Linked DNA regions of Homo sapiens. The protein of the gene in region 1 interacts with the protein of each later gene in a pairwise test. Each region holds a gene or a part of one and is shown on either strand. Other genes may lie near its edges.

Region 1 (2,663 bases):
CAGGACATTCAAACCCACTTTATAACACATTTCATTATAACTCTCAACATTAGTATATTCTTCCTAAGTACCTACCCAAATCCTTCAACTGTCCCTTCATGTCCATGAATTGAAGTCCCCTTCAAAACCTTTCTAGACCCTAGGGACTGTGATTTACACCCTAGGAGAAATACACAACTTTCCCTATTGGAATTTGTTACATTATACTAGCAAGCAAATGCCGATTCTCTCTCCCTTTGCAATTAGCTAAGATGTAATTAGGTTGCCAAGCAGCCAACACGAAACAAGTACAGGCTGACCATACACTAGAACCATTTTAGAAGCTTTGGTTCAAAGCTACAGTAGAGTTGTGAGAAAGAATCTACTCTGATGCTTATCTGAGAGGAACGCAAGAGATTTGCTGCCCTCTTACAAAAAGTGCACAGAAGTTTCTAGACCAACCAAATTCCCAGATTTGAGGTTTTAGTACCAGAAAGACCTGAAGTGACCTCAAAGGACAATACTCTATGGATCTTTAGCTCTCAAGACTTGAAAAGAACTTTCCTCACAGTGTATCTCAGAAGACCCCAGTGGAAACACTAAATCAAAGCAACGTATTTCTTTGGACCTAATGGCCCCAAGAAGCTATTCTCAGGGGGGAGGAATCTGTCAAGTTTTTATACTTTTCATTCCTGCACCTGATGGGAGAACAACTCTGTATAGAGAACTCTCCCATCTGTATAGAAAGGTGCAGGAATCAAAGCTATCTTCAAATTTGCATCACCGCCTACACCACGGACAAGAAGAGGTAGATCAATTGGGGGTTGGAGGGAAGAACTGGAAACTCTCTTGGTTAGACTTTCTCGAAGATCTTTCCTGCCTGCCTCCTCATTCCCTGAATGCAACACAGACCTTGCATACATAAACTCATCTCCTGTTGTTTTACTGTATAACGAAGTTAGAAGTGAAGTGATGATGAAGACACAATAGTCTAATTCATTAGGACTTTTACTACTAGTACTACCATTAGGGAGACTGAGGGGAAAGTGAGTTTAAAGAGTAAACCATGGGAGAGACGACAGAGATGGAAAATATATACTTAGCACACTCTAGGGCTGAGTTGGTATTTTTGTACTTTCCAGATTAAACAAGCTTCATTGTTCACTCCTCTTGTTCTCTCTCTACACCTGTAACCCTTTTTAACTTTACAGATAAAACAAAAATGATCTACACAGCTGCCACAACTGAAGAAACAATTCCAGGAGCTCTGGGAAATGGCACCTACAAAGGGGAGGACTGCTCCCCTTGCACAGCCTAGCCCTTCCCCTGGTGGCCTGGATTCTGGTCCCAAAGCAATTCTGAAAGCCAGTGTGGTAAACTAGAGAGAGCAGCAAAAACACCAGTCTTGCCTGAGTCTTTCTCCAGCATTTCCAGTACATCTATCAGAATCATCAAGTCTTGGCCGGGAACACAGACAGGGTGTCTACCCAAGAAGCCTCACCTATCCCCAACTTAGAATTTGCTACTTATTTTAAAGACTTGTTCAGTGACTGTAAACTCTATGAAACCAGAAACCGAATCTGCCTCTTGCTGGGATCTCTAAAAGTGTCTGATAAGCATCTTAAAGTCACTCAATTCCTGAACTAATCAATATATATGTTTAACCCATTACTCAAATACCCAAATCCCATTCCAAGTTTTGTGACCCAAAAGAGAAATAAATGCTCACAAGTGCTGTAGAATTAAACTTCAGAAGTTCTAACCTAAAAAGTTCAGATCCTATTCCTTCCCTTTTGACATTATTGGGATGATGCTCCCGAAAAGTCAAATTTGACATCAAGTATGCAAAAGTGAACACAGTAAGATGCAATCAGGCAAAACAAACTCAAAAAATAGCTAATGAAATGAAAAAACTGGGCGAATGCATCATGTTAGTAGAGGAGGAAAACTTTTGACAAGGAAAAACCAGGAAACAAACACATACATTAACACAATGTTACCTCACTAATAATCTCTTTTTTAAGTTCAGTAGGTATTTGGTTTTAACACAAGGCGCCCCCAAAACTGGGTACAGCAAACTACTGCCAAAATGAGTCGTTTCCCAATTCAAAGAAAAATGTTCAAATACCTAGAATTCACAAATTTCAAATTGTCTCTAATAAAATTTAAACATTTTGCATATCATATGTAAATAAGGATCAAGTAAATGATTAACAACTAATATTAACAATTACAAAAAGTCAATCATGCTTATTAGTTACTTGGGATTTTTATCATTTTGTATGGTCAGGTACAAATGAAACCAAGACAATATAGTTTTCGGGTATCAGTTTGGCAAATGTGCAGGACTAACAAGTACTCCCAACACCAAAACGAGAAACACAGATTTGGGTTACTAACATCCTCTTAAAAACGCAGATTTTTGACAAGGCTACCACCTATCATTTTTACTTATTATATCCATATATACCTACCTGTTCAAATTGTTTTCTCTATTATCTAACCAACATCATCTGCTAGGAGACTTGGTTACATACAAGTTATGTAAGAACACATTTGTTTAGCTTTTGAGGAAGACAGGGTTGGCCTCAAACCATTCTTAGAAAGGAATAAAGATGGCCGGATGCAGTAGTTCACACCTGTAATCCCAGCACTTTGGGAGGCCGAGTCGGGCAGATCATGAG
Region 2 (3,500 bases), on another chromosome or scaffold:
TACTTTTCTGTCACTACCTTTCTTACCTTGTCCTTTACATGGATATATGAAGAAAATTGAGGTTCAGCCTGTAGCAGCTCTCCTCTTCTGCCCTTCCCTTAGATTGTCTGTGTGGGCAGGTGTCTAAGAGAGTAGTTGATTAGCTTCAGGGATTCTTTGGTGGGTGTTGGGGTATATACTTTTGTATATGTATGTACATATTTTTATTTCTTTATTATAGTGTTTCATTGGGTACCCGGTCCTTCACTTGGATGTGTAGGTTCCTAATGAGCCATGGAGTTATGGATGTATAACAATCTGTTCTCCCTTTACCCTTTTAATGTATATGGGCAATAATTTTAAAGTAGTTTGGATTTTTTTAAGTTTTGAGGGGTGGGAGGGGTCTAAGGCAGAATATATCCTTTTTAAAAATGTATATATACTTTTCATTAACTATATTGTATTATTTCATGCTGTACCCAGTCCATTGCTTGGACTTACGGGTACCTAATGAAACGTGGAGGTCCGGATGTATGAAAATCTCCTCTTTTCCCCTTTCCTTATTGCCTCTGTAGGCAATAATTATAGAGTAGTATAGATGGTTTTTCTTTTTTATCCATCTGCCTATCTCCAGGAGGATGGGGTGTGCACTTTTAGAAATGTATATAAATGTTCTTGCTCCTTTTTCCTGTTACTTCATTGTGTGCCAAGGCCTTTCCATGGATACTTAGGTACGTAATGAAAATTGAGGTTCATTCTATGAAAAAATCTCCCCTTCTCCCCTTCCCTTATTGCCTGTCTTGGCAATGGCCAGTAGAGTAGTTATTTAAGGGATTTTGTTTTTTTGTTTTTTTGTTTTTTTTTTGGTAGGGGAGGTGGGGAATTTCTGGGTTTGTCTTTTTTTTAATGTATATAAAAGTTTGCTAGTTGTTGTTATTGTTGTTCTTTCACTCTCAACACAGTTTTTTGTTTGGAGTTGTAGGAATCAAATGTAATGAGGGACCCAGACCCGAGAGTGTGGTAAATATTCTTTGCCTTCCTCAGAGCCTGTATACACAAGCAAGTAGTATGTGAGCACTACAGGGCTTGGGTTTTGGTTTTTTGCTTTTGAGGGTTTTAATGAGGAGTGGGATTGTTGAGAGGAAAAGGCAAGATATATAATTTTTTTAATGTATATAAATGTTTTGCTCCTTTTTGATGTTAACTTCATTTTGAATCTGGTCCTTTGTATGACCACTTAGGTACTTAATAGTAATAAAGTTGAGATTGACTCTATGAAAAATATCCCATACTCCCCATCCCTCATTGCCTAGGGGGCAATGGTAGAATAGATGTTTGGTTTCTTTTGGGGGTGTCTGAGTGTATATGTGTGTGTATATACACACAAGAACACACATATTTATATACTATACACACACATTTTAATGTATATAAATATTTGCTACATTCTGTGTGTTATATAATGTGGTACCCAGTCCTCTGCTGGGACATGGATGTACATAATGAAACATGGAGGTCCAGACGTATGATAACTCTCCTGTTTCCCTTCCCTCATTGCCTACAGGGGCAATAGTTTCATATCTTGGGTTTTTTATTGTTTAATTTTTTTTTATGGGGAGGGGTTCTTTGGGTGGGTAATAGTCAGGGGGAAAGGACAGTGTCTATACTTTTTAAAGATGTATATAAATGTTTCATGTTATTGGTTTTGTACCTAGTCCTTTGCATGGATATATAGGTACCTAATGAAAATCGAGGATCAGTGTATGACAAATCTCCCATCCTCCCCTTTCCTTATTGCCTGTGTCGGCAATAGGAAGTAGAATAGTTGTGTGTTGTTTACTTACTTGTCTGTTTTAGAGAGATTTCTATTTTTGGTAGGGGAATATTCTTAATATGTTTTCATATCTTTATTTCATTTTGTAGTCTTTTGCATGGCTATGTAGGGACCTAATGAAAGTCGAGTTTCATAATATGACAGCTCACTTCTTTTCCTACATATTTCCTCACTTAGCAGTAGCTAGTGTAGTTATTTTGTGGTTATTTTATTTCATTCTCTAGGATCTATTCCATTAAGGATGCAAGTGTGTAGATGCATATATATCATTTGCTTCTTTCTTCCGCCATTATTTTCCTTTAACACTTAGTCCCTTGCAAGGGGTCTGACTATACCTAACAAAAATAAAGACCTACTAAATCCCTGCCATCTGGCTGGAAGGTGTAGCAGTGTATTAATGTAACTAATAGCAACAGGTGTGCAGCAGATAAGACAGGAGAAGACACTCAGCTATGGTTGAGTTGTGAAAGCTAATTAGATCCAGCATTTCTTATGTTGATTCAGATTGAATGAGGTAGTGAAAAGGGACCTGTGCTTTTGTAAATTCTAGAAAGGCAAGAGGACAATATTGAATAAAGCTGTGTTTAAACTTCATTGCTCATATATCTTTTAGTAACTGGTAAACCGGCGAAGCTGATAAGCCAATAAGAGTGCTGTCTAGAACGCATTTGCAAACCGTTAAGAGTAGCTTCTTTTTGAGGCCTGGACTTCTGATTCATCTATAGAAGTCTATTATGATTCCATCAATTGCATAGCTTGTGTACCTGGTAGAAATTGTGTCTTGGAATGACCCTTTCGAGTTATTGACATGGCTCTGATGAATAGAACATGAGCCCCAAAACTAAATCCAAAAGGAATTTTCTATCTTTCATCCCCCACATGTGGCAAGACAAGTTGGCCCTTTCTTACCCAGAGGTCTTTTGTGTGACTGCATCTTTCTCCTCCGTTCTCCATTGTGTGCTTTCCATTTTGTCTTTAGTGCCTATACTGTTAGGTGTTTTCTTCACTGGCATTCACAAATTTAAGCCATTGCTGCCTCATTAGCCTTGTATTTTGTGTGCATATCATGTATCCAGACCTGTATGTTCGCTTTAAGCATTCTTATATCACACTGTCTCCTCATCTACCATATGGTAAATGTTAAAACTCCACATTTGTCTGCATCAGGGAAAATGCATGGGCACACATCCTCCCTCCCTCCCTCTCTGCTCTCCTCCCTTCCTTCAGGCCTCTTAGCATTGTTTGTTTTCCCATTTCTGATACTACTACTCCATGCTGAAGATTTGCCATATTACTATTTTGGAAACATTGAGTGATAGAACTCCTAGAAAATTTGCAAAGAAATGTTACATACTGTATATCAAACTCTCAGATTCTAGTGTTGAAAAAGTAGCCTATACTTTGCTATTACTTATACCTGCTGCCATAGAAAAAAATAAGTTTATTCATGACACATTTACATTTGATCATAAATAAAAGAAAAAAGGGCACCTTTTTGGAGTTAGTCATGGTAGTCATTAGTGATATTTCTGAACAGTTCTTAATTTAAAATACTTCAAAGGAAGTAAAGGTCATGGCTTAGCTGAAGGAAATGCTCCAGAAATTGGACTGTGTAAACCATCAGTACAATAATACGCTGTGTATGTATGTGTATATAAAATGAGAATTATGGCATAATTGGAGCATT
Region 3 (3,500 bases), on another chromosome or scaffold:
TTTCTTTAGGTCTATTCTGCTTAAAAATTATGTTAATTCTTTTTTCTAGGTAGATAATTTCCTAGATTTAGAAGATTTGGACATGGATGAAGAGATTAAACCCCAAATGAGTGAGGGTATGCTTTCTATTTCCTTTCTATACTACCTGACCTCTTTCTAGAAACTACAAATAAGGCTTTAGACAGCTTTCCTGTTTTTGGCAATTCTTACCTCCACCTCTCCTAAGACAGGAAGAACTAAAGTTGTGAGCTATTTTTTTCAGTAACAAAAATTTCACCTGAAAGGTCAAAGCTTTTTGAAGATTGTGAAACCTTTGGTCTTAAATGAAATAAAGATGTGCTCTCCCCCTTAACAATTCATCACAGGATTGATTCTTAGGTAATTGTCTCAAGTGGAGCCATTGTAAGTCAACTCTGTTTCCTAGAGGTACAGTCTTGTAAACTGAAATTATTTTTGAGGGACACATAAAATACCTATTAATCATAAAAATCATAAAAATATCAGAATTGATCACAAAAATAAGGCTGTCTTGCCTGGTATTAAAGGTTACTGAGGCTGAACCAAGTTTCAGTGGATTTGAGTGAACTAATGTCAAGGCCTTCCCACATGTAGAATAAGATGCAAAGCCTAGGCTGAAAATCTATGCAGGCTTCAGTGAACTATTCTAAAGAAAATAAAAGAAAATCCATTTTTTTGCTTTTAAAAATATTTATTATGTAAATTAAACCCTTAATACTAAAGATATATTGTAAATGTTTCTTCTGAGGCATTTTCCACATGGGCTGGATTGAAAAAGGCTTCATGCTAGTCTGTTGATGTTTATTTAGAGGAAAACTTTTTTCTTTCTAGTTAACATTTCTGGATAGGCATAGGTATCCTTTGTTTCTCGAAGGATGTTTGAAATATGTTCAAAATCAGGAAGTTTTTTTTTTTTTTTTTTAAACACTCATTCCTGATTTAACATGCAAGAATATATCAAAGTCAATGCCTAATTTTACAGAAGGGGCAGTTTCCACGGAGGTTTGGTTGTTGATGTTTAACTATTGTTTACTGTCTTTAGGTGGTCATAAACATGTTTTATGGTCATTAGTGTTGGGGGAGGATGGCTTATTTATAATCAGACAGAAGTTAAAGTGACTAGGTAAAGTTGGTTTAGGGATGGTGACTATCTGTACATTGGTTGTATAAACCTCTACTCTAGCTTCTTCAGCTGCTTGAATTTGAGAGGTTTTGGTAATTGGAAGAAATGAACATTTTTATTCTGCTTTCAAGCATCACACTACTCCGTGAAGGGATTGCTTCTCAAGCACACTATTAACCAGCAGATGTTGCAGATTCTTTACTTATTTGGTTTAAGTGAGATCAGAGGTCTAGAGGGATCACATCCTCCAGGGAGAGGTTCTCTAACTTTAATACCCTGAGTGGCTCTGAATTTCTATAATGAGAGCAGCAAAGGGACTCCAGTTGGATTAGAAGGGAGAGCTAAGGACTTGTCAGGAAGCTACATTTGTAGAGGAAGCACACTGTTTTGGGTTTTGGGTGATTTGGGGGAGGGAACCTTGTTAAAAATGCAGATTTCTGGATCTCCCTCCCAATAGAGAATCTAATTCAGAAGGTCTTTGGTGGCATCTGGTGATCTGCATTTTAACCGACACCCCCAATGATTCTAATATAATTAATTTGAGGATAACACGTGGAGACAAATGGTTCTAGTCTGCATGTAATACATATGCAATATAAAATAAATTTCATAAGAGGGCACAAAAGTACATGTTTTGGGTGCTTTTGTGATGGTTTAAATTTTTCACTTCTTACCAGTATGAGAACTCTGTATATTGACATAAACCAACATAGCCAACAGATCTGATTTTTGTTATGTCAATCTTTTTTTTTTTTTGAGATGGAGTCTCACTCTGTCGCCCAGGCTGGAGTGCAATGGCATGATCTCAGCTCACTGCAACCTCTGCCTCTCAGGTTTAAGCAATTCTCCTGCCTCAGCCTCCCAAGTAGCTGGGATTACAGGTGCATGCTGCCATGCCTGGCTAATTTTTATGTATTTTAGTAGAGATAGGGTTTCACTGTGTTGCCCAGGCTGGTCTTGAACTCCTGAGCTCAGGCAATCCACCTGCCTCGGCCACACCCCGCCCCACCGCCCGCCCGAGTGCTAGGATTACAGGTGTGAGCCCCCTCACCCGGCCCGTCAATCTTTTAAATCGCCTTTTTACCTTCTTCAGTATTTTCACATTGTTTTCTTTAAATATTTTTTTCAAGTTACATTTTTCAATTACCAGATTTATTTTAAAATATTGATAAAAACATCTTACTAGTATGATTTTTCCAGAAATCAGATAACAAGCCTTCTTGTATTTGTGTATAAAAGATTACTGAGGCTGAACCAAGACTTGAATGAACTCGTCAAGACCTTCCCACACATAGAATGATGTGTGAAGCCTATGCTGAAAATCAACCTAGGCTTCAGCAATCTATTCTAATTACTGAAAAGGCCACCAGGGCTTTACAATTTTCATAATGCACAATCTGGGTCATTTAAAGGGAAAAGAAATTAAATAGTTGGTGCCAAGGCGAATTTTAGTTTGGGCCTAATTTGTTTTACACTTCAGGAATGTGAGCAGAAGGCAAATATTTATATCAGATGGGAAATGTGACATTTTAAATAGTAAAGTTGCTTGTATAATTTTGGCAGCTGGGAGGTTTACTGATTAGATTCCGTTGTTATTGTTTAAGCAACAGATTTGCTTGGGGCAACAAGGAAGTGGCTTGCATATTGTTTTTCTACCATTGACTTTATTTGTTCACCCCATTCACTCTCATAAATATTCTCTAAGATTTAGGAGCATGATTCTTTTCTAATATTTGTTTTATCACTTGGCAGCCCAGGTGGAAAGATTGGAGATGGTTTTTCAGTGGAGCCAACTCTATTAAGCAATGGTATTAAGCAGTTTTCTGAGGGTAGCGTCTGCCACAGAGTTTGGTGCACTGTGTTTATTTGACATCAAGTTAACCTATTCTTCCTTTTTTGAATTTGAGATAAGGTAGTTAACCTGGTGACTGTCATGCCTCAGACAAACTGGCCCATACTTTTACCCAGCACAATTATTGTTTGGATCAGTTATTAGTTATTGTGCTGAGGACATTAGAATAGGAAGATTTTCTGTTCATCTTTATTTTTATGCTTCCTCGGTGGGCCCAGCCCAACCTCTTTTCTGGTCAAGTGCAAGTAGCTCAAGAGACTTTTTTTTTTTTTTAATCTACTTCTGAGATTCATACTGTCTTACACACATCTCTTGGTCAGCGGGTGTACTTATGGTGTGGCTGATTGTATTGACTGAGAATGGGCACTGATTCCTGCTCAAAGGTTGGCAGCCTTGTTTGATTTTCATTTTCAGGTTCTCCAGTACTGTACTTCTGCCTTAGTCCATTTATGTTGCTGTAAAAGAATACCTGAGGCTGGGTAAAGAAAAGAGGTTTATTTGGCTCAT
Region 4 (3,313 bases), on another chromosome or scaffold:
GCCAAAGTCATCGTTACTCAAACACATCACTCTGCAGTTACACGGCTGCACGCTACCGTCATGTAAACTCTGGAATACTGACGTGGACCTGACCACCCGCTGAGGTGAAAGGCTACAGCAGGGTGAGCAGCTGCCCATCTCTGTAAATTCCACCCTCAGCGATGTCCTCTGCGGAGTCTGGCCTGGTGGGAGAATAAGCCCAGGAAAATGGGCCCATGTAGCACATCAGGAATTAAACAGGGCGCAGGTCGCGGTGCACATAGGCCTGCAGGCCACGTTCCTGCCCCTGTGACCCGCACTGTCCCCTCTGACAAGCTCAAGTGCACAGCATCAGCTCTGTTTGCTGCAATAGCCTCTGCCAAGGAAGGTCCAGGAAGAAGCCCAGAGGCCACACAAGGTGTTTCCACAGGGAGGCTGTAACCTCAGGAGCTGCTCAGAGGCAGCACCGGTTCATGGGAAAAACAGGCGGCAACTACAGGAAGCAGCTGGCACCCGTGTGAGGACCCAGGGAAGAGGCAGAGATGATCAGAACCTGGAAATCTGGAGGGTGCCCCAGGGACCAGCCAGCCAGAGCTCTGGGCAGCGTGGGTGCTGCTGGGCTGTGTGGAGCGGGTCTGGGAGCCGTCACCCAGGTGGGCCTCCAGGGGAAAGGGCCATGGCTTCTAACTCCACCGTCCAGGTCTCTGCTATTGGCATCCCACAGCCCCCTCTTCTGTCAGTGCTCCCAGAGTCCCCTTTCCTGGGCCTGGAGGGCTCCTTTGGGGCAGGCAACATTGGCCGCCAACCCTCTGACCTGCACCAGGAGACACGGGGACCTTTAACCCCCAAACCCGCATGGAGCAGGACTGCAACCCCAGCAAAGGACAAGGGATGTCAGCAGATGAGGCCTGTGACAAGTGAGATGAGGGCTTTTTTTTTTTTTTGAGACGGAGTCTGGCTCTGTTGCCCAGGCTGGAGTGCAGTGGCACAACCTTGGCTCACTGCAAGCTCCGCCTCCCCGGTTCACGCCATTCTCCTACCTCAGCCTCCCAAGTAGCTGGGACTACAGGTGCCCGCCATCACACCCGGCTAATTTTTTTTTGTATATTTAGTAGAGACGGGGTTTCACCGTGTTAGCCAGGATGGTCTCGATCTCCTGACCTCATGATCCTCCCACCTCAGCCTCCCAAAGTGCTGGGATTACAGGCGTGAGCCACGGCGCCCGGCAGAGGTGAGGGCTTTGGGGAAACGGTTGTGGGGCCTGGAGTGTGGAGGCGTCAGCGCAGGCCTGGCAGGAGCCCTGAACCGGGACAGTGAGGTCCTGCAGCTGCTGGCCTGGGGTGTGGAGACTCCCAACACAGGGGAAGTCTCCAGGACCCCACACCACTAACAAGATGAGACTTGTGCTCCTTTGGGCTCTAGAGAGGAAGCCCCTCTTAGCCCTCAGCCCCTCTTTCCTCCCTCTCCTAAAGTAATTTGATCCTCAGGAATTTGTTCTGCCCTTATCTGGCCCTGGCCAGCTCTGCATTTGACAAATGCCAGGAAGAGGAAACTGTTGAGAAAACGGAACTACTGGGGAAAGGGAGGGCTCACTGAGAACCATCCCGGTAACCCGATCACCGCTGGTCACCATGAACCACATTGTGCAAACCTTCTCTCCTGTCAACAGCGGCCAGCCTCCCAACTACGAGATGCTCAAGGAGGAGCAGGAAGTGGCTATGCTGGGGGTGCCCCACAACCCTGCTCCCCCGATGTCCACCGTGATCCACATCCGCAGCGAGACCTCCGTGCCTGACCATGTGGTCTGGTCCCTGTTCAACACCCTCTTCATGAACACCTGCTGCCTGGGCTTCATAGCATTCGCGTACTCCGTGAAGGTGCGTATGGCCCTGGCGGAAATCCAGGGGGTGCCGGTGAGCCTGGGGCTCCACCTGCCCACATGCTGCCTGGGGTGGGGACTTGTGTGTCCCTGTGACTGTGAGTTTGTGTGCACGTCTGTCCTGTGTGTGCCCACGTCAGTGGCTTTGTCTGTGTGATCTGTGTGTGTGTGTGGCTTGGGGAATCTGCCCAGTGCAGGTCTAGGAGGAGGCTCCAGGAGGCTGGCTGGCTGGCTCAGAGTCTGTCCCCGGCTATCCACTAGCCCAGAGCAGTTCTCCCTATAGCCCAGTAAGAAATTACACCTTCACCTTCCAGACTGGCACCCAGGCTCTCCCAGAAAGTGAGAAGGGAACTCACAGGTGACTTCACCCCATGGTGGGGAGAACAGCCTGTGCTGGGGCCAAGGCAGAAGGAGGATGAGCCCCGAGGCTCCTGGAGAGTCTGAGCCGGGTGAGGAAGGGGAGGAGGTGGTCCCTGATCTCAGGGCAGGGAGGAGACAGTGAGGAGCTGGAGCCATAGCACGCGGCTCTCAGCTGGGGGATCCTGGTCCCCTCACCATCTCCTCTCCCCCAGTCTAGGGACAGGAAGATGGTTGGCGACGTGACCGGGGCCCAGGCCTATGCCTCCACCGCCAAGTGCCTGAACATCTGGGCCCTGATTTTGGGCATCTTCATGACCATTCTGCTCATCATCATCCCAGTGTTGGTCGTCCAGGCCCAGCGATAGATCAGGAGGCATCATTGAGGCCAGGAGCTCTGCCCGTGACCTGTATCCCACGTACTCTATCTTCCATTCCTCGCCCTGCCCCCAGAGGCCAGGAGCTCTGCCCTTGACCTGTATTCCACTTACTCCACCTTCCATTCCTCGCCCTGTCCCCACAGCCGAGTCCTGCATCAGCCCTTTATCCTCACACGCTTTTCTACAATGGCATTCAATAAAGTGTATATGTTTCTGGTGCTGCTGTGACTTCACCTGGGGAGCGGTCCTGCTGGTTCTGAGATTAAATGTAATGCCAAACGTTCTTGCCTTAGCCACACCAAAGAATTGGGTGTGGCGGCTGCCCGCGGCGAGTGATGGAGACACAGACCAAGAGAAGAAAAAAACTGTAGGTTTTATTGAGCAGAGTGACAGTACAAAGCTTACACAGCATGGAAGGGGTCCGGAGAGGGTAGCCACTGTTGGTTTTGGGTGATTGCCTTTTAATCTCTTTAAGGCGGGAAATACATGTGGTGGGAAGATGTTACCAGAGAGAGAAACAAAGGCAGTAAATTATTTTGTGACATGTCTTAGATTTTGAGGAAAAACAGAATTGCAACTTAGGTTTTATCTAATTTTATCTACTTTATGACCTTGCAGCAGCATGGCAAAAGAGACAGGATTTTACAGGACTTTACAAAGTATGTTCACAAGGAATTGGAATTGGGAGCATAGATAAGGTCCGCTGGTCACAGAAAAA

The links. The genes of interacting proteins can lie anywhere in the genome.
Region 2: the proteins of SLC10A1 (region 1) and LNPEP interact in a two-hybrid assay, tested with the Homo sapiens proteins (one large-scale study listed by BioGRID).
Region 3: the proteins of SLC10A1 (region 1) and IFTAP interact in a two-hybrid assay, tested with the Homo sapiens proteins (one large-scale study listed by BioGRID and IntAct).
Region 4: the proteins of SLC10A1 (region 1) and IFITM2 interact in a two-hybrid assay, tested with the Homo sapiens proteins (one large-scale study listed by BioGRID).

What each region holds. Positions count from the first base shown.
Region 1 is NC_000014.9:69,774,916-69,777,578, reverse strand, and holds the end of SLC10A1 (hepatic sodium/bile acid cotransporter), read left to right. Parts: intron 1-1,190; coding exon 1,191-1,297; 3' UTR 1,298-2,163; downstream 2,164-2,663. UniProt on the Homo sapiens protein: As a major transporter of conjugated bile salts from plasma into the hepatocyte, it plays a key role in the enterohepatic circulation of bile salts necessary for the solubilization and absorption of dietary fat and fat-soluble vitamins.
Region 2 is NC_000005.10:97,033,580-97,037,079, forward strand, and holds part of LNPEP (leucyl-cystinyl aminopeptidase), read left to right. Parts: 3' UTR 1-3,500. UniProt on the Homo sapiens protein: Release of an N-terminal amino acid, cleaves before cysteine, leucine as well as other amino acids. Degrades peptide hormones such as oxytocin, vasopressin and angiotensin III, and plays a role in maintaining homeostasis during pregnancy.
Region 3 is NC_000011.10:36,636,002-36,639,501, forward strand, and holds part of IFTAP (intraflagellar transport-associated protein), read left to right. Parts: intron 1-49; coding exon 50-116; intron 117-3,500. UniProt on the Homo sapiens protein: Seems to play a role in ciliary BBSome localization, maybe through interaction with IFT-A complex.
Region 4 is NC_000011.10:306,583-309,895, forward strand, and holds IFITM2 (interferon-induced transmembrane protein 2), read left to right. Parts: upstream 1-1,233; 5' UTR 1,234-1,610; coding exon 1,611-1,856; intron 1,857-2,430; coding exon 2,431-2,583; 3' UTR 2,584-2,813; downstream 2,814-3,313.